7 linked regions of the Homo sapiens genome follow. The protein of the gene in region 4 interacts with the protein of the main gene of each other region in a biochemical or structural test. Each region holds a gene or a part of one and is shown on either strand. Other genes may lie near its edges. The genes, in order: PREX2, CARD14, PDZD8, DGKK, PPP1R9A, INTU and SYNPO2L.

The links.
Region 1: the proteins of DGKK (region 4) and PREX2 interact in a test that uses a peptide from one of them, tested with the Homo sapiens proteins (one large-scale study listed by IntAct).
Region 2: the proteins of DGKK (region 4) and CARD14 interact in a test that uses a peptide from one of them, tested with the Homo sapiens proteins (one large-scale study listed by IntAct).
Region 3: the proteins of DGKK (region 4) and PDZD8 interact in a test that uses a peptide from one of them, tested with the Homo sapiens proteins (one large-scale study listed by IntAct).
Region 5: the proteins of DGKK (region 4) and PPP1R9A interact in a test that uses a peptide from one of them, tested with the Homo sapiens proteins (one large-scale study listed by IntAct).
Region 6: the proteins of DGKK (region 4) and INTU interact in a test that uses a peptide from one of them, tested with the Homo sapiens proteins (one large-scale study listed by IntAct).
Region 7: the proteins of DGKK (region 4) and SYNPO2L interact in a test that uses a peptide from one of them, tested with the Homo sapiens proteins (one large-scale study listed by IntAct).

The regions. Positions count from the first base shown.
Region 1 is NC_000008.11:68,119,546-68,123,045, forward strand, and holds part of PREX2 (phosphatidylinositol 3,4,5-trisphosphate-dependent Rac exchanger 2 protein), read left to right. Parts: intron 1-650; coding exon 651-741; intron 742-1,375; coding exon 1,376-1,504; intron 1,505-3,500. UniProt on the Homo sapiens protein: Functions as a RAC1 guanine nucleotide exchange factor (GEF), activating Rac proteins by exchanging bound GDP for free GTP.
Region 2 is NC_000017.11:80,173,030-80,176,529, forward strand, and holds part of CARD14 (caspase recruitment domain-containing protein 14), read left to right. Parts: 5' UTR 1-199; intron 200-3,500. UniProt on the Homo sapiens protein: Acts as a scaffolding protein that can activate the inflammatory transcription factor NF-kappa-B and p38/JNK MAP kinase signaling pathways.
Region 3 is NC_000010.11:117,284,941-117,288,440, reverse strand, and holds part of PDZD8 (PDZ domain-containing protein 8), read left to right. Parts: intron 1-2,641; coding exon of another isoform or gene 2,642-2,670; exon of another isoform or gene 2,671-2,747; intron 2,748-2,969; coding exon 2,970-3,500. UniProt on the Homo sapiens protein: Molecular tethering protein that connects endoplasmic reticulum and mitochondria membranes. PDZD8-dependent endoplasmic reticulum-mitochondria membrane tethering is essential for endoplasmic reticulum-mitochondria Ca(2+) transfer.
Region 4 is NC_000023.11:50,376,826-50,380,325, reverse strand, and holds part of DGKK (diacylglycerol kinase kappa), read left to right. Parts: intron 1-248; coding exon 249-345; intron 346-591; coding exon 592-699; intron 700-1,634; coding exon 1,635-1,748; intron 1,749-2,093; coding exon 2,094-2,228; intron 2,229-3,407; coding exon 3,408-3,500. UniProt on the Homo sapiens protein: Diacylglycerol kinase that converts diacylglycerol/DAG into phosphatidic acid/phosphatidate/PA and regulates the respective levels of these two bioactive lipids.
Region 5 is NC_000007.14:95,267,594-95,271,093, forward strand, and holds part of PPP1R9A (neurabin-1), read left to right. Parts: intron 1-956; coding exon 957-1,114; intron 1,115-1,613; coding exon 1,614-1,914; intron 1,915-3,500. UniProt on the Homo sapiens protein: Binds to actin filaments (F-actin) and shows cross-linking activity. Binds along the sides of the F-actin. May be involved in neurite formation. Inhibits protein phosphatase 1-alpha activity.
Region 6 is NC_000004.12:127,642,957-127,646,456, forward strand, and holds part of INTU (protein inturned), read left to right. Parts: intron 1-564; coding exon 565-1,100; intron 1,101-3,500. UniProt on the Homo sapiens protein: Plays a key role in ciliogenesis and embryonic development.
Region 7 is NC_000010.11:73,649,530-73,653,029, reverse strand, and holds part of SYNPO2L (synaptopodin 2-like protein), read left to right. Parts: intron 1-1,989; exon of another isoform or gene 1,990-2,022; coding exon of another isoform or gene 2,023-2,122; intron 2,123-3,500. UniProt on the Homo sapiens protein: Actin-associated protein that may play a role in modulating actin-based shape.

The sequences.
Region 1 (3,500 bases), on a different chromosome or scaffold from region 4:
CACAACTAAACTGTGAGGAGTCCCTTTTTCATATGCAGTAAAAGGAGCTCAGAGTTAGAACAGAAAGGCCTCAATCTGTCCTTCCACCTCCTTTACCTCAATTTCTGACATTTAAACTAGGAATCAACATTCCTTCAGCCAACTAACCTAAAGGATTTTTGTGAATATCAAGTATTTTACAGTCCTGGGAAAATTACTGTTATACACATAGGAGTTACCCTTTTTAGTATTTTTTTTTGTTTTTTTGTTTTCAGAAAGCTTTATGATATTTCTTGCTCAATATTATTTCTAATTTTAAAAAGCACAAGATATTGCCTTGGATGCTAATTTTGTTGTTTTACATTAACAAAATTTATAGCCATAACCAAAATTTGTAGTAGAAGATTTTACCACTTTGAAAAGGATTCCAATAACTTATACAGTAAATTTATATTTTGTGTTAATATATGGTAAGATAGTAAGAAATGTCATTGCAAATGTTATCAGGTGCATTTATTTCAATATTTTATGTAAAGATCGATTTCACAAGCATCATGGGGTTTCAAAAATAATTGTTGCTTTAAGAAAAAATATTTTATAAGATTTACTTTTAGAAATACGTATCATGTACTATGAGAAATATGTAACTCGGAAATCTCTACTATTGATAGGTGGATTCAATTACCAATCTCCTAAAAGGGCAGGCTGTTGTGAGGGCCTTTGACCAAACCAAGTATCTCACTCCAGGCCGAGGATTGCAAGGTAAGCCTTGAAAAATTAACTAGTAGAAGCAATTGAGAAAAACAAGGTGGTAGACAATATAGTCATGAAGCAAGCAGATTGCATAAGAGGAACAATTCCAGTTACTCATGTTTCATAATTCACCAAACACTACTTCTATTCTGATAATTTTTGAATATGTAAAAAAGTCAGCATAGGAATTTTTACATGTCTGTTTCTTTGAAAGTTTAAAATGTTTAATGCCTATAGGGGCCAGGCTGAGCAAAAATAAGTTAATTGAAGATACATAAACATGAAGTTGATTTTGCTGAAACCAAGCGTAATGTCTTCTTGGCTGTTTCCCAGTGGTGAGGAAAGGGTGTGGGGAATGAGAGTTGATGAATGGAAAGGATGGAGCTGCCACTCTGACAAGTAACTAGTTTGGGATAATGAAAGTAGAGTTTTCATCTAAATTTGCTTCGTTTAAACATTTATAAGAAAATAACATGAAGGTTTGACTTTTTACATTTAACGGATTTTCTGATGGTGTGGCAAAAGAAATGACCACCATGTCAATAGTCTAGGACAACAGTGACAGAAGAAGGTTTTGAAGCCTAAAGGCTTCATTGTTTAGGAATTATTTGAGACTTAAGAGAGATTTTCTGTGTTTATTTAGAATTTCAACAGGAAATGGAACCAAAGCTGAGTTGTCCAAAAAGGCTACGGCTTCATATCAAGCAAGATCCTTGGAATCTTCCCAGCAGCGTCCGGACTCTTGCTCAGAACATCAGGAAATTTGTTGAAGGTCAGCATGAAAAGCAAAGAACATTGCATGATATTAGCAATAATCAATTTAAAACCCACTAAAACCAAAAGTTTGGTAATGCCTGATTATTTTTTGCAGTGTTTCCTTTTGTGAAGAAAATAAAAGTACTGAAAATGGTGAGGGAGGAAGAGGGCAAGAAGGAATAAGATTATAGGGTCTTGTGTCCCAAGGTTATAAACATCATGGAGAATATTCTCAGTGAATAAAATAAGGGCTCAAAGTTATGAAGACAAATAGAACGTGAAGAGAATTTAAGACTCTATAAAAGGAGACAATATCATAAACAAATTCTGAAGGATTTACAAAAAGGCATGAAGCAAAAGTTTATCCACAAAAAAAAAATCAGTTGTGAAGCTGTATGAGAATCAAAATAATCACATAGGTTGCATCATTGATTTTTAAGTTTTTATATCAGAAGTGTTTGTCTAAGTTGATTGCTATTAACTACCATAACATTATTTACATGACATTCTATAATTGGTAAAACCTGTAAATTGGAGATATATGACTTTGAGACGACTTCATTGAGATAGATTGCATGTTGTTTAGAATCAGTGTGATTAAGTGAAAATTCTGAGAGTTTCAAAAATGATTATGGTGGAAAAGATAAAATGAGAATTCACCTAGTTGTAAAAATATATAACTCAGAAATTTTCTTCCCAGTGATTAGAACAGTGGTTGGCAACATCTGGAGGTATTGGTTGTCACAATTGTGGGTGTGCTACTGACCTCTAGATAGAGGCCAGGGATGCTGCTGAACATTCTAGAATGTATGAGACAGTTCCTTACAAGGAAGAATTCTCTGATACAAAATGTTAATAGTGCTAAGGTCGAGAAACCCACACAATAAATACTATTCCTGTGTTTACATTTTTATTCTTCAGTCATTTGTTTGTCAGTTGGTTGTGGTCAATAGTATTCAATGGTATTTAACAGAATTACAGTGTAACTGCAGTTATTACCTTAAGTGGGGTAAATTAAAGAGAGCTGTAAATTTTGCTGACAAAAGACAACCCCTTATATCAAATGGAGTCTGAGTTAGTCACTTAACTCTTTTAGGCTTCAACTTCCACATTTATTAAATGACAGAGATGGCTTAAATGTTCTGTGATTACTAAGTCTTCTGCATAGACTTATACTCAAATATAACAACTTATGTTTAGAGATTAGTAGAAAGGAAATTTGTACAGATATGGAATACTTCCCCAAATAAATCATAGTGATTCTATCTTGCGATAAAATCGTGTATTTGACAGCTGGTTTTCTTGGCTATATTTTTATTTTATGGCCTAATGTAATGTTTATCTGTGATACTTTATAACATAATATTTAATGAAAAGTCTGAATTTAAAATTCCCCAAAATATGAATAGCATAAATGTTAAATGCATTTTTGAAAAACTATTATGTTTTAGAAATTTAAGTATATACTTTACTGAGTAAAAGACATTTCTGCTGAATAGATGCCAGTATTATGACACTACTAGAAACTATAATTCTGCAGTTGTTCTCATCATCTTTGAGATTTTATATTTGTTTTAAGGTAAATGCATATTGGCTAGGAATGGAGAAATCCTTAAATCATCTCCCCCACTTTTTTGTTTTGAACAATTTTATCTTTCAGATAGAAATTTCTAATGCTCTCATTAGATTCAAAGAACTTCTTGGCTTCTGCGTTAATTTTACTATTTATCCAAAAGTTATTCAAGGGCAGGTTATTCAATATCCATGTAATTGTATGGTTTTGAGTGAATTTCTTAATCTTTATTTCTAATTTGATTGTGTTATTGTCTGAGAGAGTGGTTGTTATGATTTCACTTCTTTTGCATTTGCTGAGAAGCGTTTTATGTCTGATTATGTCATCGATTTTAGTGTATGTGCCATGTGGTGATGGGAAGAATGTATATTCTGTTGTATTGGGATAGAGATATCTGTAGATGTCTATCAGGACCATTTGATCAGTGCTGAGTTCAGGT
Region 2 (3,500 bases), on a different chromosome or scaffold from region 4:
ACCACCACAGCCGGCTAATTTTTCTATTTCTAGTAGAAATGGGGTTTCACCATGTTGGCAGGCTGGTCTCGAACTCTGACCTCAAGTGATCTGCCTGCCTCAGCCTCTGAAAGTGCTGGATTGCAGGCGTGAGCCACCGCACCAGGCCTAAACAGATTTCTTTACAATCTACCACCATGAACAGCAAGCATTAGCATTGGTGAGGAGTGTTCCAGAATCCCTCTGCTCTCTGCCTCTCCATTTCTCTCCCCCTCTCTTTCTCTCTCATGCACACACACACACACACACACACACACGCGCGCGCGCGCGCGCGGAATGACAGGACAGACTGATCGGCAGATTGGATGAATGGATGGATGGGCACATAGATTGAGGGACTCCCAGAGATAAACTAACACCATTTTATAAAAATGGTATCATATTCTACATGATTGAAATGTAAACTTTTAATTTTACTTAAATTTTAGTTCAGCTCAGATGTTGCTGGCAAAAGTTTTTTTTTATTATTTTTATTTTTTATGTACTGCTCCTTGAGGAGCTGGGCTAACTCATAGGCAGTGCATCCAGATTCGGCATTTTTTTTTTTTTAGATGGAGTCTCGCACTGTCACCCTGGCTGGAGTGCAATGGCACAATCTCGGCTCACTGCAACCTCTGCCTCCCAGGTTCAAGTGATTCTCCTGCCTCAGCTTCCCAAGTAGCTGGGATTACAGGCACACACCACCACACCTGCCTAATTTTTTGTATTTTAGTACAGATGGGGTTTCACTATGTTGGCCAGACTGGTCTCGAACTCCTGACCTTATGATCTGCCCACCTCGGCCTCCCAAAGTGCTGGGATTACAGGCGTGAACCATCGCGCCCAGCCAAAAAATATTTTTTAATTGTTAAAAATAATAATGGAATGCCAAATGTAGTAGAACAGTTTCACAATGACAAGAACTATTAGTTCCTAAAAAATCCCCAAGATTCAGATAAGAGATTACAAAAACCTTGATAAATTAGTGACATTATGTAAAATCAACAGTGCTGGGTTTGGTGGCTCAGACCTGTAATCATTGCACTTAGGGAGGCAGAGGCGGGAGGAGTGCTTGAGCCCAGGAGTTTGAGAGCCTGGCCAACATAGCAAGACCCCATTCTCCACAAAACGGAAAATACAATAAAATAAAATCAGCGTTTTGTTTTATTTTATTAATTTATTTGAGATGGAGTCTCGGTCTGTCTCCCTGGCTGGAGTGCAGTGGCGTAATCTCAGCTCACTGCAGCCTCTGCCTCCCGGGTTTAAGCGATTCTCCTGCCTCAGCCTCCCAAGTAGTTGGGATTACAGGCATGTACCACCACACCCAGCTAATATTTGTATTTTTAGTAGAGACAGGGTTTTGCCATGTTGGCCAGACTGGTCTGGAACTCCTGACCTCAGGCGACCTGCCCGTCTCTGCCTCCCAAAGTGCTGGGATTACAGGCGTGAGCCACGTCGCCTGGACTTCCTTTATTTTAGATAGCACAGGGTCATGGAAGATAAAGTGATGCCTTCCTTCCCCTACCCCCTACCCCGATTTCTACTGCTTGCATTATTTCTTAGGGTAAAGAATCTTCTTATTTGGCTGGAAGACTCTATTCCCACCGTAGTTTAGTCCTGGATGTGTGATTAAAGAAATCCAGTGGTTGCCCTGCGCTGAGAAGGACAGCCGGGCCTGGGTTCTCTCCTGGCTCAGTACAGCCCCCTCCCCACTCCTGCTGAGGACTCCCAGGGAAGCTGGAGGCAGCTCTGGGGCGTTTTCTCTGACTTCCCTAGACTTCTCTTCAGCTGCCCAAACAGTAGAGGGATGCTGAAGCCCTCTCTTCCCGCAGTCTGTCCCTAAGGGTTGCGCTGGCACCTGTGCCCCCAGTGCCCCTTGGCAGCACTCCTTTGGTTTCAGGGCTTGTCTGCCATTTTTCTTTTTTCTTTCTTTCTTTTTTTTTTTTAAGACAGGGTCTCAGTCTGTCATCCAGGCTGGAGTGCAGTGATGCAATCTCATTTCACTGCAACCTCTGCCTCCCGGGCTCAAGTGATCCTTCCACCTCAGCCTCCCAAGTAGCTTGGGGACCACAGGCTCACGCTACCATGCCCGGCTAATTTTTGTATTTTTTGTAGAGACAGGGTTTCGCCATGTCACCCAGGCTGGTCTTGAACTCCTGGGCTCAAGCGATCTGCCTGCCTCAGCCTCCCAAAGTTCTGGGATTGCAGGTGTGAGCCACCATGCCCGGCCTGCTATTTTTCAGTTTGTGGCAGAAAAGTTGTTTTCCTTTCCTCATTTTGTGGTTGCTGCTTTATTCACTTATTTATTTTTTTAACTTTTTAAAACGCAACATTTGGTTCATTTCACCAGGAGCTGGGGAGGGAGGTACAGGAGGCTGCCCTGATCCTTTGTTGGGTTTGATCTGGAGACTTTGACGTGACAGAGCGACTGCGCCCACTGGTTGTCCTCTAAGAAGGCGTGAGGGGAAGCCCAGACGCCTCTGCAGGAGCCAGAGACATTCCTAGGGGGTCACAGGGTCAGCTGAGGTGAACAGGGATTCTGGAATGAGGAAGCCAAGGGGATGGAAGGGAGGAGGCTGGCAGGGAAACGCCCAGAGCACGTGCTCCTGCCCGACACCTCCAGGCAGAGAACAGGAGCTGGCAAGAGAGGAACCCCGCTTGTGGTGGGGACGCTGAACAGGCAGGGCCTGGCTGGGATGGGGGCCCAGCCTAGGCTGAAAACGAAGAGAAAGGAAAGTGGGTGCCGGTGTCCCACGCACTGTGGACCCCCAGCCCTGGCCCTGGGGTGGCAGGGGCAGAACCGGGCACTGCAGGGACCTCCTCAGCCCACCCTCCTCCTGCTTCCTGGCAGGGATGAGAGAGGGAAGCAGGAGGCAGGGTGGGATTGCCAGCTGCTCTCGGATCGTTTTTTTTTTTTTTTTTTTTTTTTTTTTTTTTTTTTTTTTAAAAACGGGATCGTGCTATGTTGCTAGGCTAGTCTTGAACTCCTGGGCTCAAGCGATCCTCCTGCCTCTGCCTTCCAAATTACAGGCATGAGCCACTGCACCAAGCCTGGATCTTTTTTTTTTTTTTTAAACAACTTTGTTGAAATATAACTCACGGCCAAACACAGTGGCTCACACCTATAATCCTAGCACTTTCGGAGGCTGAGGGGGGAGGATCACTTGAGCCTAGGAGTTTGAGACCAGCCCAGGCAACATAGTGAGACCCCCTTCTTTACAAAAAACAACAACAACAAAAAAAATGAGCCTGGCATGGGGGCACATATCTGTATTCCCAGATACTCCGGAGGCTAAGGTAGAGGATCACTTAAGCCCAGAAGACGGATGTTGCCGTGAGCTGAGATTGCACCATTGCACTCCAGCCTGAGCAACAGAGCAAGACCTTGTCTCAAAAAAAAAAAAAAAAAAAAAGGAAGAGCTATAACCCATACGGCACACAATTCACCCGTTTAAGATGCTTCTAGTGTATTCACAGATGTG
Region 3 (3,500 bases), on a different chromosome or scaffold from region 4:
AACAGAAAAGCTTTTGTATGTCTCTTTTTTTGTTTTTTTGTTTGTTTGTTTTTTTCTGTACATAAATATATGCCTTTCCCAATTTTTGTTTAGGAAACAAAAATTTCTAAACTATGCATTTTTGTAATAGTCTTTATTTCTTTTAGCATGTTGTAAACTTTCCCCATGTCAACAGATATTTTTCAAAACATTTTTATATCGCTTTGATTCATTTATATGGGTATATAATTGATGATAGTTGAAATAAGATTGGCAAAATATTATATTTGAAGCTCAAAATGGAATTCATTTTACTGTTTCCTCAGCTTTTGAGTGTGTTTGAAATATTCCAAAAGAAAAATCCAGACTTGAATGGTGTATTCCTGAGAGAGAGTTGCAATGGCCATCTCCACAAAACACCTGATGACTGAGGAATAGATGAGACGAGGGCAGATTTTTAGTCATAAAAAATGAGTTCAGATTGAGTTGAAGTTTTTGCCTACTGTAGATCATTAGATGGACTAATTTTTCATTTATGCATATGTCAAACTATAATTTTGCTGAGACATAGTATGGTTAGAAGGACGTAGTAGAACTTAAAGCTAGATAAATAATGAAGCACCATATTAGAAAGCTCTGAATTTCCATGTGATAAGTTTGTAGGCTAAAGGGGCAAATGCTTTAGGAAAATTTCGTAGCAATATGTTTGGTGTTTAAAGTAGGGAAGGTCTGAGTGAGAGATTGCAGTTAAAAGCTGTTTATTACTAAAGTGAAGGCCAGTTATCAGGAGGATCTGAACAGGGAAGGAAAATGGGCTGAAATCACAAGTTTGAGTTGACAGCTGAATGTTTCTAGGGAGTCAAATATCCCTAGGATTCAAATTGAGTTAACTGGGAGTGGCAAGTTGATTGATAGTAGTGAGGACAGAGAGACAGTCAAAGAAAGGTTTTAGCTCTGCTGAATATTTAGTCCCAAAGGAACATCCAGGTGGTGATGTCCAGTAGTTGGGAATGTAGAACTAAAGTGAAGAAGAAGGGAAACCAAAGAAAAAGTTGATAGTTTTTGAGACTACTGGAGTGGCTGTAATTTACCAGGGAGAGAGCAAAAAAGGGTGAGAGAACTAGTGGCAAACTTTGGTAACAGTTGCATATAAGGTGCAGGTGGTATAGGTGGAGAAAAAGAAGCTAGAGGAGAGGTGATCAGAACCAATTGTGTAAAGTGTTGTGGAAACTAAGAAAAAGAAAAATTTTAAAGAAAAGGAAGAAAAAGTTTAAGGATAATTGATAGAGCAAAGTCAGGAAGGAGACAGGAGGATTGGATCCAAAGTAAGTATACAGATAGAGGGATATTTTCTCCTCTGAAGTAAGATAATACTAAAAATGATGGTAGGGAGAAAAGGTAGCTTCATATTGATCTTTTTGGCAAATAAGGTGATAGCATGCACAGAGTAAAAGAGAGTAGGGAGAGTAGACTTTAGGGAAACAGGAAAGATTTACAGCTGATGTTTGAGAGACTTAGTTGTTTACAGACTGATCAAAAGAATGCTAAGCAGCCCTGAACACCTTGCCAAAGATGGATGGCTAACTTGATGCTAGATCCAAGCGGCAAGCTCAAGAGCAGGAAAGGGCAATAGTGGGGCTAGTAAAGCTGGGGATCAAAAAACATGAGGACGAGAAAATAAAATATTGGTAAGAACATCGTTGTAATCTTGAGACACAGGGTTGGATAGAAGAGCAAGTGGTATCAGGAGACCAACAGGACCATGAGAAGAAAAGAGGAATGATTGGGCCGGGAAGTTGCCTAAAAGTAGTGAGCAGACAGGATTGTAAGAGGTGAAAAATAGGAGCTTGTGATCAGAGACTAATTGAAAATGAAAGATCTTTGATGTGGACAAGTTCCAAGTGATGACCGAGTCTAAAGCCTGATCTTCCCAGACAGCTGAAGTAAGAGAGGACACAGGTTGAGGAAACCTGAAGTCAAGTTATGAGAAAGGGGTGGTGTTACTTAGATTTATTTAGGATGGCCCTAAGATCTTTGGAAAACAAAGAGCCTTCTCATTCTTTCTCTAAGTTCTACATAAAGGGATAGCTTGGGCAAGTGCTGTTTTAGAGAGTGTGGGAAGAGTGACAGGAAACAAGTAGCACCTTTAAGTGCTAACACACCTAGAATATCTATAGAAGCATACACTAGAAGCTACTAAGGTCAGGGAAGGGACAGTATGGCTGGGAGACAGAGGTGGAAAGAATATTTTTTACTGTACATCTTTTTATACCTTTATACCTTTCAAATTTTAAACTACGTGTAACAATTAAAAAATAAGAAAAATAAAAACAACGTAGATATTACAGATGCAGATAGTAACCAGCTTGTTTAACTTTAAAGCAGTTTATCCCTTACTTGTTCTTTCTGGTTTTGAAAAAGATGAATGTGATGGGTACGGTTGATAAAAAGAATCTGTAAAAGTACGTTATTCATAGTATAGTATTTTGCTACATTATTTTCAAGCACTGCTCTCTTAATTTGAATCTTTCATCATATGTCTTGTAATCCCTGGAGTATTTTAGAATTTCCTTCAGTGGAATCACAGCTTTCCCTCACTCTAAGTCTGATTTAGCCATTAATAGAATCCTTTAAATAGATCTCTCTCTGTTCACTTCTTCAGTTCAAACTGAGAGATGTCATCTAACCTAAGAAGAGATAGAAAGCAATTAGGAGTTAGCATCCTGGCACTCTTTTTGGGATCCTGTGTCATCATCTGGTTTGAAAAGGTAAACATCTCCAGGATATCAGCACATTCAGGGTTTGAGAATTAGCACACTGATTCATCCAAAAGCCAAATAAAATATTGTTGAGATTTTCCTATTATTCTTCTATTAGTTAAATAACCAGAGGTAATGGCAATTATATATATTTAATTAAATACATTTAACAAATGTAGTAATTTCTATTGCAATAATTTACATGTTTTCCCTTTTAAAATCTTAAACCAGGTGTGAAAATCACATCAACACTGCAAGTGTTGAAGCTTATCAAGCAGGCTGGTGACCGAGTCCTGGTGTACTATGAAAGGCCTGTTGGCCAGAGTAATCAAGGTGCAGTGCTGCAAGATAACTTTGGCCAGTTGGAAGAAAACTTTTTGTCAAGCTCATGCCAATCGGGTTATGAAGAGGAAGCTGCCGGGTTGACAGTAGATACTGAAAGTAGAGAGCTGGATTCTGAATTTGAAGACTTGGCAAGTGATGTCAGAGCACAAAATGAGTTCAAAGATGAGGCACAATCATTAAGTCATAGTCCCAAACGTGTTCCAACAACACTTTCTATTAAACCCCTTGGAGCTATATCACCAGTTTTAAACCGTAAATTAGCTGTAGGAAGTCACCCACTACCACCGAAAATTCAGTCCAAAGATGGAAATAAACCTCCACCCCTAAAAACTTCTGAGATAACAGACCCAGCACAAGTGTCAAAACCAACCCAAGGATCTGCTTTCAAACCACCTGTGCCACCACGACCACAAGCGA
Region 4 (3,500 bases):
GTAGCAAGCAGAAATGGAAAATTTATTTATTGATAGGATACTGAGGCTTCAAAGGGGCCCAGGAACCCATTTCTTCAAGTGTTTGCATTGGATATCAGTTACATTAACCGCTGTCCAGTTGCCATTTAGCATGACTCCTCTCTGTAAGAAGGCATTTGAGAAGTAAGATGGTTTTCCTTCCTGTCTTTTTCCACCATTTATCTATATATCATTCACCCTCTGCTTTCTTAATGCTTACCTCCATGTAGTAGCCGCCTTAAGAACAAGATGTGGTATGGCCTTCTGGGAACCAAAGAACTTTTGCAGCGCTCTTACAGGAAACTGGAAGAACGAGTGCATTTGGAGGTTAGTGGAAAAGCGGGTAGTCTTTCCTGGGTATGGAGAAAGGAAATCTCATGGCCTTGGGAATACCGTACATGCTGATTCTTCCTGAGCTTTAACTCTGTGATCCTCACAGCTCATGGGAGGAAGGCATGAAGATAGATTTCCATGTAATGGAAGAGAAGACAGAGCCCTTTCCCCATCTCTGTAAATGTTCCTTCATGTTGCTATCTAAAGATCCAGCTAATGAGAGCTACTCTTTTCTTTCAGTGTGATGGAGAAACCATCTCCTTGCCAAACCTGCAAGGCATTGTAGTGCTCAACATTACCAGCTATGCTGGAGGTATCAACTTCTGGGGAAGCAACACAGCAACCACGGTTAGTATGGAACAAGGAATGGGGAGGAAGAAAGGCATGATCCCACTAAGGTCTCTCTGAAGGAAGCATTGTGCTAACTGAAGTGAAAAATAGACAATGGGAGAAGAGGAGGTGGTCCGAGAACCTTTATTAGCAGCAGCTGTATGATCAGTTTTTCAGGCAATTACCATCCGAAAGCAGAAAATTCAACCAAAGACCTCAGGATAAGGTCAACTCGTAGGTGTTGCCTGGGCTTTGGATTTTCCATTCCTCGGGTCTGACAGATCCTTTAAAGGCTATCTAGACCATGCTTTTTTTTTTTTTTTTTTTTTGAAACGGAGTCTTGCTCTGTCATCCAGGCTGGAGTGGCAAGATCTCAGCTCACTGCAACCTCCGCCTCCCAGGTTCAAGTGATTCTCCTGCCTCAGCCTCCCGAGTAGCTGGGATTACAGGCGCCAGCCACCATGCCCGGCTAATTTTTGTATTTTTAGTAGAGACAGGGTTTCGCCATGTTGACCAGGCTTGTTGACCTTGAACTTTTGGCCTCAGGTGATCCACCCACCTTGGCCTCCCAAAGTGCTGGGATTACAGGTGTGAGCCACTGCGCCCGGCCAAGGCCATGCTCTTTTCTCCAAGGAATTCTGTCAGTAAAATCTCCTGGGATGCTGACCATGACCCCTTTACTCTGAGTTTACCCAAGAAGGTCATAAGGCCAATAAGACTGGCCTCAGGTATTTATGATGCTGGATTGGAAAAGGAGGGAACTGGCTAAGAGTGCAGTACCCTTTTCCCAGATTGGCTTTCTGACCTCATCTTTTTCCCTTTTAATAATGAAGTGTTTCCACTCTTCATGAGCTAGAAAAATTCTCACCAGGAGCCTTTAAACATGCCTTCTTGTTATAGACAGGGTGTGATTTCTCAAGGGTGGGAGATGTGACACAGTTCTTCCTCCTCAGGAATATGAGGCTCCTGCAATCGATGATGGGAAACTGGAGGTGGTGGCAATCTTTGGTTCTGTGCAGATGGCAATGTCCCGTATCATCAACCTGCATCATCATCGCATTGCCCAGGTAGGCAGGGGCTGGGTGGGCACTGGGAAGGGGCTGAGGTTTTTGACTGCTACCCAGGATGTGGGATAGTCCCAGGAATTAACTGGGTAGAAGAATGCCAGGGTGGAGTGAGCAGGTTATCTGGTGGGCAGTAAAGTGCTGACTGAGGTTGGAGGCAGAGGTGGCAGAAGCCAATGGAGCAAAAAGCCCATAGGAAACAGGCATTTCTTCCTGGGATGATCTGATTCACATCCTTTCCAGTCCTGCTTCAGATACACATTCAAGGCCATAACTATGAGATTATCAGATAGAGTTACAGCAGTTGCCCCATTTTTCTCTCCCATTCTTCCTCATTTTCTCTGGCAGTGCCATGAGGTGATGATAACCATTGATGGTGAAGAAGGTATCCCAGTGCAGGTGGATGGGGAGGCCTGGATTCAGAGACCAGGCCTTATCAAAATTAGATACAAGAACGCTGCCCAGATGCTGACAAGAGATCGGGTAAGGGGGAAAATCTTGTCTTGGGCTCCTATACTGCCTCATCCATAGTCACTTGAGTACTGAATATTTCCACTCAAGCAGAATTCCTCAAAAGGAGGTCTGTGTGCCCCTGGCATCAGAGTCACTTGAGATGCTGGTTATAAATGCATTCTTGGGCCCCCACACCAGACCCACTGAACCACATAGGGTTGCATAGTTCCCAGGAACCCAAATTTGCAAACAGGCTCCTCAAGACACTCTGATATATACTGACATTTGCAAACACTGTCCAAGAGAGTGAGACAAGGAGCTTCCTCCCCTGGTTTTCGACAAGGTTATCCTCCTCTTTCCACTGCAAAGAGAGCTAAAAGCGTCAGATGATTATGGAAAAATCTTCTCCTTCAGCAACAGATTCTGCATTGAACATGGTCTTTAGGTGTCTCTAAGGTTCCTTAAAATGCTGCATTAATACATGTCATCCACTTCAGCTAAAGCTTCTAAAGCTTATAAAGGAGCTATTATTGATCACATATTCAATGCTTGGAGGTTATCTTGCACTCTAACCTGTGAAAAGTCCATGGAAACAGCAATAGAGAAAGGAAGAGAAGTCCAGTTTATAAACTGCCTATTCTGTGCTAGGCATTTTACATTTCTCTCATGTAGGTTCTCTCCACAATCTTATGAGGTGGATACACTTATTCCCATTTTACAGATGAGGAAAATGAGGACCAGAGAGGTTAAATAATTTGCTAATGGTCACACAACTAGTAAATGACAGAAACACGATTCAAAATTAAATTAGATATGTTTGGCTCTAAACTGCATCACCACATATTGCCTACATTTGGCAAAGAAGGGAGCATGAAAGGTGCTCCACTGTCTTGTCAGTCATGATGCCTTCATATGGGAGCTTCTAGAAACCAGACATGTGTATGATCCAAGCCTGGTGTCCCAAAATCCAGCATACTCAGAACAACAAAAACTAAAGGGCATAGTCCAGAAGAGATTGAATAAAATGATGGATACTTGTATAGGTATATAGATGGGTATGACAGGGGGAATGGACAGGGGGCCCTCCTTCCCCTCTACCCACTGTACCCACATACCCATTGCCCACAAACGTCAGGCTCACAGACAGATCTGTCATGTGCACTAGTAGCTACAGCAATCATTAGGATATGCCACTGTATTCATCTCCAGGACTTTGAGAACTCAATGAAAATGTGGGAATACAAGCATACTGAAATTCAAGCTGCCCCTCAACCCCAGCTGGACTTCCAGGACTCTCAAGAG
Region 5 (3,500 bases), on a different chromosome or scaffold from region 4:
GGTAAGAGCCAGGCTAAAGAGGACTAATTGAATTCTCTCTGTGGCCTTTGCTGTTAATAGTTCATTTTCTTTGTGTCCCACTTTACTCTCTTTTTCTTTTAGCCTTTTTATTTAAAGACTTAAGTATTTACCCTTCGAAAATCAGTGTCGTTTCTGGTGGGGAGAGAAGGTATTCACAGAGATGAGTCAGAGGCACATACAAATAACTTGTAATACAAAGTTAGATGTTAATGAAAGAAAAGGAAATGTTTATCCTACCTCATCCACAATACTAGTAAACTAAGTACTTACGATTTTTTAACTGTTTGTTTCTTCATTTGTGTAGCCAGACCTTGTTTCTTTTCCCCAGCTATCGTCAATTTGCTGATTAGGTAAATTCCTCACTGGTCTTTCTACAGGTTTCAAAAAGGAACAAGGTAGATTTTCAGAAACTGTTTTGGGTTGAAAATTATATATTAAAATGAAAATGATATAGTACCTGAAGACTGCTAGTAAATTTTGCTACAGTAAATTTATGATAGTTACCTTCTGTTGCCTGTAGTTGAACTGGAAACCTGACTTTGTAGGTTTTTTGTCCTTGGTTTCTAAGATCTGTCAACTTTTGATATACCCTCCTCTATATCTTTGGTCATCTAACTTCCCAACATGCATACACATAAATAGTAAATACAAATTAGTGATTTTTATAATTATATTGCAGGAAGGTTGTATGCTTTTCGGATGTTGGATTTTTATAGCGCCTTCATCATCTTTAGTGTTGGTTTCTTCCTTTGACTTTGTATATTTCTCCTAAGCCCCACTGATTTCTTGGTTATTTCTTGGTTACAGGCTGTCATGGTGGTCACCTGATCCTTACCTGATGTTACTGGTTACCTTGAGATTTTATCAGTGTCTGTGGTCTCTTCATCAGTTCTCTCCAAAGGTTTCTCTCACTGATTATCTTTCAATATTCTTAGACTTGAATGAAGCAGTCCCAGAGACAGAGCGCCTGGATTCAAAAGCACTGAAAACTCGAGCCCAGCTCTCTGTGAAGAACAGACGCCAGAGACCCTCTAGGACAAGACTGTATGATAGTGTTAGTTCCACAGATGGGGAGGACAGTCTAGAGAGAAAGGTGAGCACCCTTGACCGTTTCCTGATTTGTACTGTTGGAGTATATCATTGTTCCTACAGCTTATTGAAGATTATGATTTTTCTGCAAACAGAGTCTATGTCCTAGTTGGTAAGCAGCTAGAATAGTTCACGTCTTTGTCTCCTGAATTCTTTATATTGTTGTAATTCAAAATATTTTGTCTATTCATTCAGTGAACTAACCAAGAGCATTATCTGTATTGTCATATTTCATGATGGTGCTTTTGATATTCAGCTATTGGTTTTACTTAGTGGGAAATAATGAACGTACAAGTAATTGTTTCTGTAGGTCTTAGGTATATGTATTAGTGACGATGTTAATATGGTGAATTGGTATGAACCATGCATTCTCATCTGTAAATCAACAAAAACTGGTTTTCATGGGGATTCACTAATAAAAGGTTGGTCTTATTTCAAAGTAAGTATTGCATAGAACTGATACTCAGTGGCATAACCTTCCTTATAATCTCTTATACCAACAGCCATCAAACAGTTTCTATAACCACATGCATATTACCAAATTACTTCCACCTAAGGGTTTGAGAACGTCTTCTCCAGAATCAGATTCTGGTGTTCCACCCCTCACCCCGGTGGATAGCAATGTGCCCTTCTCGTCTGACCACATAGCTGAATTTCAAGAAGAACCACTGGACCCAGAAATGGGGCCTCTCTCCTCTATGTGGGGAGACACTTCACTGTTTTCTACTTCAAAGTCTGATCATGATGTGGAAGAATCTCCTTGCCATCACCAAACCACCAACAAGAAAATATTACGAGAAAAAGGTATTGTTAATTTCTTTTTCTGACTTCATAACACCTCAGCTTGTACAGTATAAAAATGACTTTTTCTCATAATCATAAGTCATTTGTTTTCTCATAGCTAATAATTAATATTAATTTCTTTTTATATTATAGAATAAGAGAAACAACCCCTCCATGTATTTTACTTTAATTTAGTTTTATCTTTTCCTATCTGGTTCAGTATTTTTATCTCTTCAGCTCTCTATAAGTTTACTACTCAAGGGAGTTCTTCAGGGGAGTGGGGCAGCCCAGAGTTTCAACAAACACTAACACAGTCATAAAGAAAAAAACACTACATAGTCATATAGAAAAATATAGAGCGATTTTGTAGAATAGCAGCCCAGAGTTTCAGTAAACACTAACGTAGTCATATAGGAAAAAAAGACGAAGATCAAAGTAACACAGGCATATAATTGATACTTAATAATGTTCTTGGATGAATTGCTAATATACCTCTCCACGTAACCAGTGCAGATCTTCTAGAAGAGGGATAATCAACCGAATGTAGTCTCCACCTGCTTTTGTAAATGAAGTCTTATGGGAGTACAGTCACACTTTTTTACTTACATACTATCTATTTTCATGCTACAGTAGCAGTGTTGAGTCGTTGTGACAGAGACTGTGTATCTCACAAACCTAAAATATTTTACTCTGTGGCCCCTGAAAGGTAAAGAAAGCTTCCTGATGCCTGGTCTAGAAGTATATTTTCTTATACTCAAAATTGCTGGATAAACTCTGAAAATGGCTTCATCATTGGTTGCCATTTATCTAGAATTTTTAAAAAGTGTTATACCTTTACTTTTGGTCTATCAAGTTACCACAAAGATGATTAATTACAGCCATGTTTGATTGCAGGCTTGAGGATAAGGCTCTGGTTACCCTAACAGGAGTTGGCGATTTTCTGAATTGTGTCAATACCACATTTACAAATCATTTTTTTTCATATCTGAGGGACATCAGTGGAAATTAGGATGGAGAAGTCCCATTATAACTGGCTAAATGATAAGCATCTAACGGAATATCAAATTAGAGGAAGTAAAAGATTTTTTTCTAGAGATTTGTAAAACAGGTTATATGCCAGTAGAAGGCATGAAAATATTTTCCTCGTTCCTGTTATATAAACAACCTAATACTAAAGTTTTGGTCCCGAGGCTTACATAGCACTGGGCCTTTGTTCAGTCAAGATTAAATAAAGTAAATTGAACACTATCAATTTTCTACTCACAATTACTAGAGATTATTATTCTAATTTTTTGTGTGGTTAATAACACATTATTTGACCCAGAAGATGTGTTCAAAAATATTCATTGAATTAATGTCTAGTAAATAGAAACTGGCTTTTTTAAAGCTTTACAGGATTTATTGCTTATTAAAAGCATTGGGCCTCTGCAAGTATAGATAGAGTACAATTATATCAACGCTCAGAAGAGAGAGAGATTGCGTCCAGCTGAGGTTGGTAAACAAAACCTATCCAAGGAAGTACAATTAGAATAGCCATCAAAGCACTTAAGGGAAAAAAAGGGTAGGTAAGGAGGGAATAGCGGGTAAAGTGATGTCATTAACAGAGA
Region 6 (3,500 bases), on a different chromosome or scaffold from region 4:
ACAGATTTTAGTTCATGGTGAAGTGAATGTTTCTTTTTTGAAAACTTATGTAAAAGTCTGTTAAAGCTGGCTTTAGCTTTCATTTTAACCTGACAGCCATCCTAAATAATTTCTATGCAAATAATAGATTTTCATGTACAATTTCCAAATGGCATGCTTGTGTGGATATAATTGCATAATCAACTGCTAATGCAAATTATCATTCAGTGAAATTGTTTAAAGTGAGCAGTAACCACACAGTGGTTGATTTAATTTTTTTCAACTCATAGATTCTATAAGGGGACCATCTCTTTTTTCATTGGTTTTCCTTTCTATTGCTATGCCTTTTTGATTCCTTCTCCCCCAACTCCTATTCAAAGCTCTACAAAAAAAGCATCCTATATGAAATAATGTTGAGGATCACAATAAATTAGAAATAGTAAGGATAATTTGAAATAATAAAGAAGTTTCACCCTTTCCCATCTTCCTGCTCCCCAGCCCCAACCCTCACCCCCATGCCAGGATGACATACCTTTCTTTTATATATTGGGCTGCTATTAAGATTATCTTTTCTCTCTTTCATAGTGATCTTGAGCCTGAATGGCTGGACAGTGTGCAGAAAAATGGAGAGCTGTTTTATTTGGAATTGAGTGAGGATGAAGAAGAAAGCCTCCTTCCTGAGACACCAACTGTGAACCATGTCAGGTTCAGTGAAAATGAGATTATCATTGAAGATGACTACAAAGAAAGAAAAAAGTATGAACCCAAACTCAAGCAGTTTACCAAAATTTTAAGAAGGAAAAGACTTTTACCCAAGCGCTGCAATAAAAAAAATAGCAATGACAATGGACCAGTATCCATTCTAAAGCATCAGTCCAATCAGAAGACAGGAGTCATTGTCCAACAGCGATACAAAGATGTGAATGTTTATGTAAACCCCAAAAAGCTAACTGTTATCAAAGCCAAAGAGCAGCTCAAGCTTCTGGAAGTGCTGGTTGGAATTATTCATCAGACCAAGTGGAGCTGGAGAAGAACCGGAAAGCAGGGTGATGGAGAGAGGCTTGTGGTTCATGGCCTGCTGCCAGGGGGATCTGCTATGAAGAGCGGTCAGGTACTCATTGGTAAGTGTTGCTGGTACACATCCATCCCTGTTTACAGAGATCTTGATTAATGATGACACCTTGCGGGAAATGTGATAAAAACAATTATATACAGTCTCCACAGATAAAGAACTGATTAATGACATTTGGTACAGTAGAGAAATGGTTACACATGGTGCACTACAAGGCACAGTGTTCTTAAAATGACCAGTTCAGTGTGTTGAGTATGTGTGTGCCTTGTTCAGGCCAAGAAATAGCTTACCTAATTTTCAAGTTTTGAATTATATAATTTTATTTCATCTTGGTTATATTTGCTGACAAGAAAAAAAACGTTGATCATAGAGTGATAATTTAGGTTTGAATGGCTATATCCAGTAACAGGATACAAAAATATATAATTTATGAATAAAAATACTTTTAAATTGTATGTTTGCACTTGAGTACACTAAGTTCTTGGAGTGGTTTTCAACTGTTTCATTTGGCATATTTTGCAACAGTGGTGTTATATATAAATTTCCTTTTAAGGGCGTGTGTCATAAAATATATCTGTCATAAAATAGCCCACCAATTTTCAAGAAAAATAAACCCACAAATTATTCTGAATATATATTAAGATGAACATTTTGTGTTGCTGATAAATTTTAAGCTGTTAGATACAATGTTTGAGTTAGTAGCAATCTAATTACTTAAAGATAAATGAGTAAAATTTGAGGATATATTATTACTAAAATTTAAAAGTAATAACAGTTCTAAAAGCTGACAGTCTTTTAAGTTTATCTAGCATAAGAGGTTTAAATGAAGAACATTTACAGATAAATTTACAAATATTTCCAACTTTAAATCTGAATTTCATTTGTTTGTTCACTGATTTGACAGTTTGTTTTTTTAGCATCTGCTAAGTGCCAGGAATACAAAGATTACTTTACTGATCCAATTATTTCTTGAAAGGAGCTATGTTTTAGTGGAAGAGACGGGTTACAGATAGGCAGGCAGCTCCTCACTGTCTGATAAGTGTCATCATAGGGGTTTACAAGGAGGATCATATGGAATCTTGTAAGAAGGGCATCTGTGGCAAAGTATGTGTTCCAGAATGATCTCAACAGGATCTGCACACTTTCTTAAAATGTAGTGTTGATACTCCTCCCATGGAGAGTTGTGCTCTGTGTCATTGAATCTGGGTGGGCCGGTGACTACAGCTTAATTGGTGCCATGTGACTTAAGAGGTTGGATCATAAAAGGTGATGCAGCTTCTGCCTGGTTATTTTGGGGATACTTGCCCTTAGAACCCAGTCACCATTGTGTGAAGAGGTCAAGACACCAGTGATCCAGCTGATAGCCCCAACTGAAGCCCTCGCCACCAGATGTGAGTGAGAAGCCTTTAAGATGACTCCAGCCCCAACCACCATCTGCCTGTAACTGCATGAGGAATCCCAAGTGAGAACCACAGCTGACCCCAGTTAACCCCAGAACCAGGAGAGATGATAAATTATTGTTGTTGTTATTTTTTTATTTTTTATTTTATTTATTTATTTATTTATTTTTGAGATGGAGTTTTGCTGTTGTCACTCAGGCTAGAGTGCAATGGCACCATCTTGGCTCACTTCAACCTCTACCTCCCGGGTTCAAGCGATTCTTCTGCCTCAGCCTCCTGAGTAGTTGGGATTACTGGCACCCACCACCATGCCTGACTAATTTTTTTGTATTTTTTAGTAGAGATGGAGTTTCACCATGTTGGTCAGGCTGGTCTTGAACTCCTGACCTCAGGTGATCCACCCGCCTCAGCCTCACAAAGTGCTGGGATTACAGGCGTGAGCCACCGTGCCTGGCCAACTGTTGTTGTTTTAAGCCTCAGAATTATTTGGATAGGCCTGGCGTGGTGGCTAACACTTGTAATCCCAGCACTTTGGGAGGCCAAGGTGGGCAGATCACTTGAGGCCAGGAGTTTGAGACCAGCCTGGCCAACATGGCAAGACCCCGTGTCTACTAAAAAATACAAAACTTAGCTGGGCCTTGTGGTGCATGCCTGTAATCTCAGCTGCTGGGGAGGCTGGGGCACGAGAATCACTTGAACCTGGGAGGCAGAGGTTGCAATGAGCCAAGATTGTACCACCGCACTCCAGCCTGGGGGAACACAGTGAGACTCTGTCTCAAAAAAAAAAAAAAAAATTGTTTGGATGACTTATTATGCAACAATAGATGACTGGAACAGGGGCTAATACATACTTACATTCTCTTGGGTCCTCTACTTTCCTTCTTGTGAAATGATAGGATAGAACTAAATATCTCTATGGTTTGTTCTTTTAGTTCTGTAAAAGGAGCCAGAATTCATTTAACGTGCCCCCCTTTCAGTGGTGTTTCCTGTGAGTTGGTAGTTAGATCTTGAGGCCTATCAAACATATTTTATAGGTGGTCTGTGTGCTT
Region 7 (3,500 bases), on a different chromosome or scaffold from region 4:
TGGGGACAGGAGGGGTAATGAGTAGAAGGGGAGCATAATTATTCTCATGGCCACCATTATTTTTGCTGTTTGAACCAATGTGGCAAAAGGGTAAGGTGATTCAGTTCAACCCAGGAACAGGGTAAGTAGGGAAATTGGAAAGGGACACAAATAGATGAAGGGTTTGGTGGTGGTGATAATTGTTATTGTGTGTCATGATTGGGTGAAAGCAGAGTACAGACACAGGACAGGGGAGTATTTAAAAGCAGGTTGAAGGCGGGGCAAGGTGGCTCATACCTGTAATCCAAGCACTTTGGGAGGCTGAGGTGGGAGGATAGCATGAACGCAGGATTTTTGTTTTGTTTTGTTTTTTGTTTTTTTGAGATGGAGTTTGGCTCTTGTGCCTAGGCTGGAATGCAATGGCGTGATCTTGGCTCATTGCAACCTCCGCCTCCCGGGTTCAAGCGATTCTCCAGCCTCTGCCTCCCGAGTAGCTGGGATTATAGGCACCCGCCACCACACCTGGCTAATTTTTTGTATTTTTAGTAGAGATGGGGTTTCACCATACTGGTCAGGCTGGTCTCGAACTCCTGACCTCAGGTGATATGCCTACCTCGGCCTCCCAAAGTGCTGGGATTACAGGCGTGAGCCACCATGCCCGGCAGAAGCCAGGAGTTTGAGACCAGCCTGGACAACATCGTGAGACTTCGTCTCCAGTAAAAATTTTAAAATTAGCCAAACACTGTGGCACATGTCTATGGTCCCAGCTACTTGGGAGGCTGAGGCAAGAGGATTGCTTGAGCCTGAGAGGTTTGGGCTGCAGTGAGCCATGTTTGCGCCACTGCACTCCAGCGTGAGCAACAGACCAAGACCCTGTCTTAAAAATAAATAAATAAATAAATAATAAAAATTAATAAATAAAAGTGGGTCAAAGCTACAGGGGTTCTTTTTTTTTTCTGGTTTTTTTTTTTTTTTTTTTTTTTTGAGATAGAGTCTTGCACTGTCACCCGGGCTGGAGTGCAATCTTGGTTCACTGCACCCTCCACCTCCTGGGTTCAAGCAATTCTCCTGCCTCAGCCTCCCGAGTAGCTGGGATTACAGGTGCCCGCCACTACACCTGGCTAATTTTTTGTATTTTTAGTAGAGACGGCGTTTCACTATGTTGGCCAGGCTGGTCTCGAACTCCTGACCTTGTGATCCACCCGCCTCGGCCTCCCAAAGTGCTGGGATTGCAGGCGTGAGCCATTGGCCAAAGGATTCTTTATAGTATTAATAGCAGGCACCTTTGACATTTGCAAGTTCAGTTCGGATTCCTGGGGACTGAGAGGCTATGGGATGATCATGAGATCCCGAGGAAGTGGCAGAGGGAGGGAGCTTTGGCTCCTTATCTCAGGCAAGAATGTTGGCCTGGGCAGAAAAAGCCCATTCCACTTATCTCAGGCTTTGCTATTTTTGATGTGAGCTACAGAACAAGGTCTAAGGGTAAACGTTCTCCCTGCTCTATGCCTCCCGTGCTTTCCCACAGAGACCGTTCTTGTTACCTCCAAAATCTCATGATTCCCCCTCTAGTTATATTTCTTCCCTCTCCTCCACCATTTTGATTCCTGATCTATAGAACTTTGTGTCTCTCAGTTTGGAGTGGAGGCTAAGGACATGAGAGTTGAGAGTCTGACATCCCTGAGTGTCCAATATCCCAGGAATTCCAGATGCGTGCCTAGGATCCTATGCTTTCCTCAATTCTCCACTTATCTCCCCCTCCCTTCCCATAATGCTGGATGAGACTGTAGCTACTGGCTCAGAGATATTTTTAGTCAAGCAGACCTCATTGTCTACTGGGGTGGGGTTGGGGGAAGGGAAGGCAGGTGCCCACATCCATCACACCGGCACTTGTGGGGCAGCCCAGAGAAGGGAGAGGGCCAGGCTCCAAAAATAGCACAGTGAGCTCATTCAGCTGCCAGCTCTGGGGACAAGACAAAGGGGCTTTAAAAGGCGTGGGGGGTGGCTCAAGCTGGTCCTGCTCCAGCCAACACCGCCTTTCTCAGCATGGAGACCTTTGAGCCCATCAGCCAAGAGCCCCTCAGCCAAGCCAGCTATGACAAAGCCCCAGACCCAGTTCCTGAGCTCCAAGACTCGTTCTATGCAGGTACTACCCTCCCATATCTATGAGAGTCTGGGGTCTAGAATGGAGGGGAAGATGTCAATAGTTTAGGAAGGGTAGTCTTTGGGAAAGGTCTTACTCTCTTGTTCCTTTTTGCTGTCCTCTTCCTCCTTTTCTCAGGAGAGTTTCACTGCCCCTTTCTCAGTGATGCTGTGGTCACATGTCAAAGGGGTTTCTGACCACAAGAGCTGTAGAAAACTCATGGGAACAGAGCGTGTGTGAGTACATTATGAATACATGAAGGCATGTATGTGTGAGTCATGGGAGAAGATATGTGTGAACAAGAAAGTATCCATATATATCAAGAAAGTATAGTGTCAAGAAGACTTCAATAGTAATGGTTATAGTGGGCCTTCACACTGTGTTAAGTGCTAAATTTACTATATTATCTCAGTTAATCCTTATAGCAATCCTATGAGGTAGCCATTGTCTACCCTCATTTACAGATGAGGAAACCGAACTTTAATGAGGTGAGGTAACTATCCCAGAAACCAAAAACCTGAACTGAACTCTGACTCTAGGGCCTGTTGTCTCATCCATACCACTATTCTGTGGTATAAACACTGGGATGAGAGGAATGACAAAAATGAAAAAGTTCCATCTACTTTCCACTCAAGATACCACGCTCATTACAAAGGAGCTCATTACAAAGCTCATTACAAAGGAGCTCATTACAAAGGAGCATGGTACCTTGAGTGGAAAGTAGATGGAATCTCAATAATTTTTCAGGAGGAACTGGGGACCATGGACCAGAGAGTATCCATGTGCAAGGCGGGGTCCTCGCAGCAGGGTAGCCCTCCCATTTCCTGGCCCCACCTACCCAGGCCCCACATGGCATGGAAAGCCCTGCCCTGGTTCCCTTTAGCACATAGTCTTTGTGTGCCTGGCTGGCAGTGGCTGCCTGAGCTCTCTACGTAGAGACAGTTCTGACCCCTGAAGAAGCCCACCCCACTACCATCCCCAGCTTGGGGTAAATAATATATTTAGCTGGCGACCTTGAGGTATCCTAAAGATTTGGAGTGTTGCCTTGGAGAACAACACTCTAACTTTTCCTGCATCTTGGATGGAGACTACCCCTGACTGTGAGTAGCAGGGGTGTGAAGCCCAGAGGACTGCCCTGGCAGTTGGAAGGCCGAGATCAACTTTAACTTCTGTCTAAACTGTTAGTAACAGGGTCTCTGCAGGGAGGTCTCTGGGAAGAAGGGCCACCTAGAGCATGTAGGTGTGTGAATGTATTTGAGTGATGGTGTTTTGATGTGCACACATGTGTATTTACATAAGTGTATGTGAATGGAGCTGTATGTAAGCTGGGGTATATGTGAATGAGAGAGAAAAGTAAATAGGAGAAAGTACGCCTACAGTT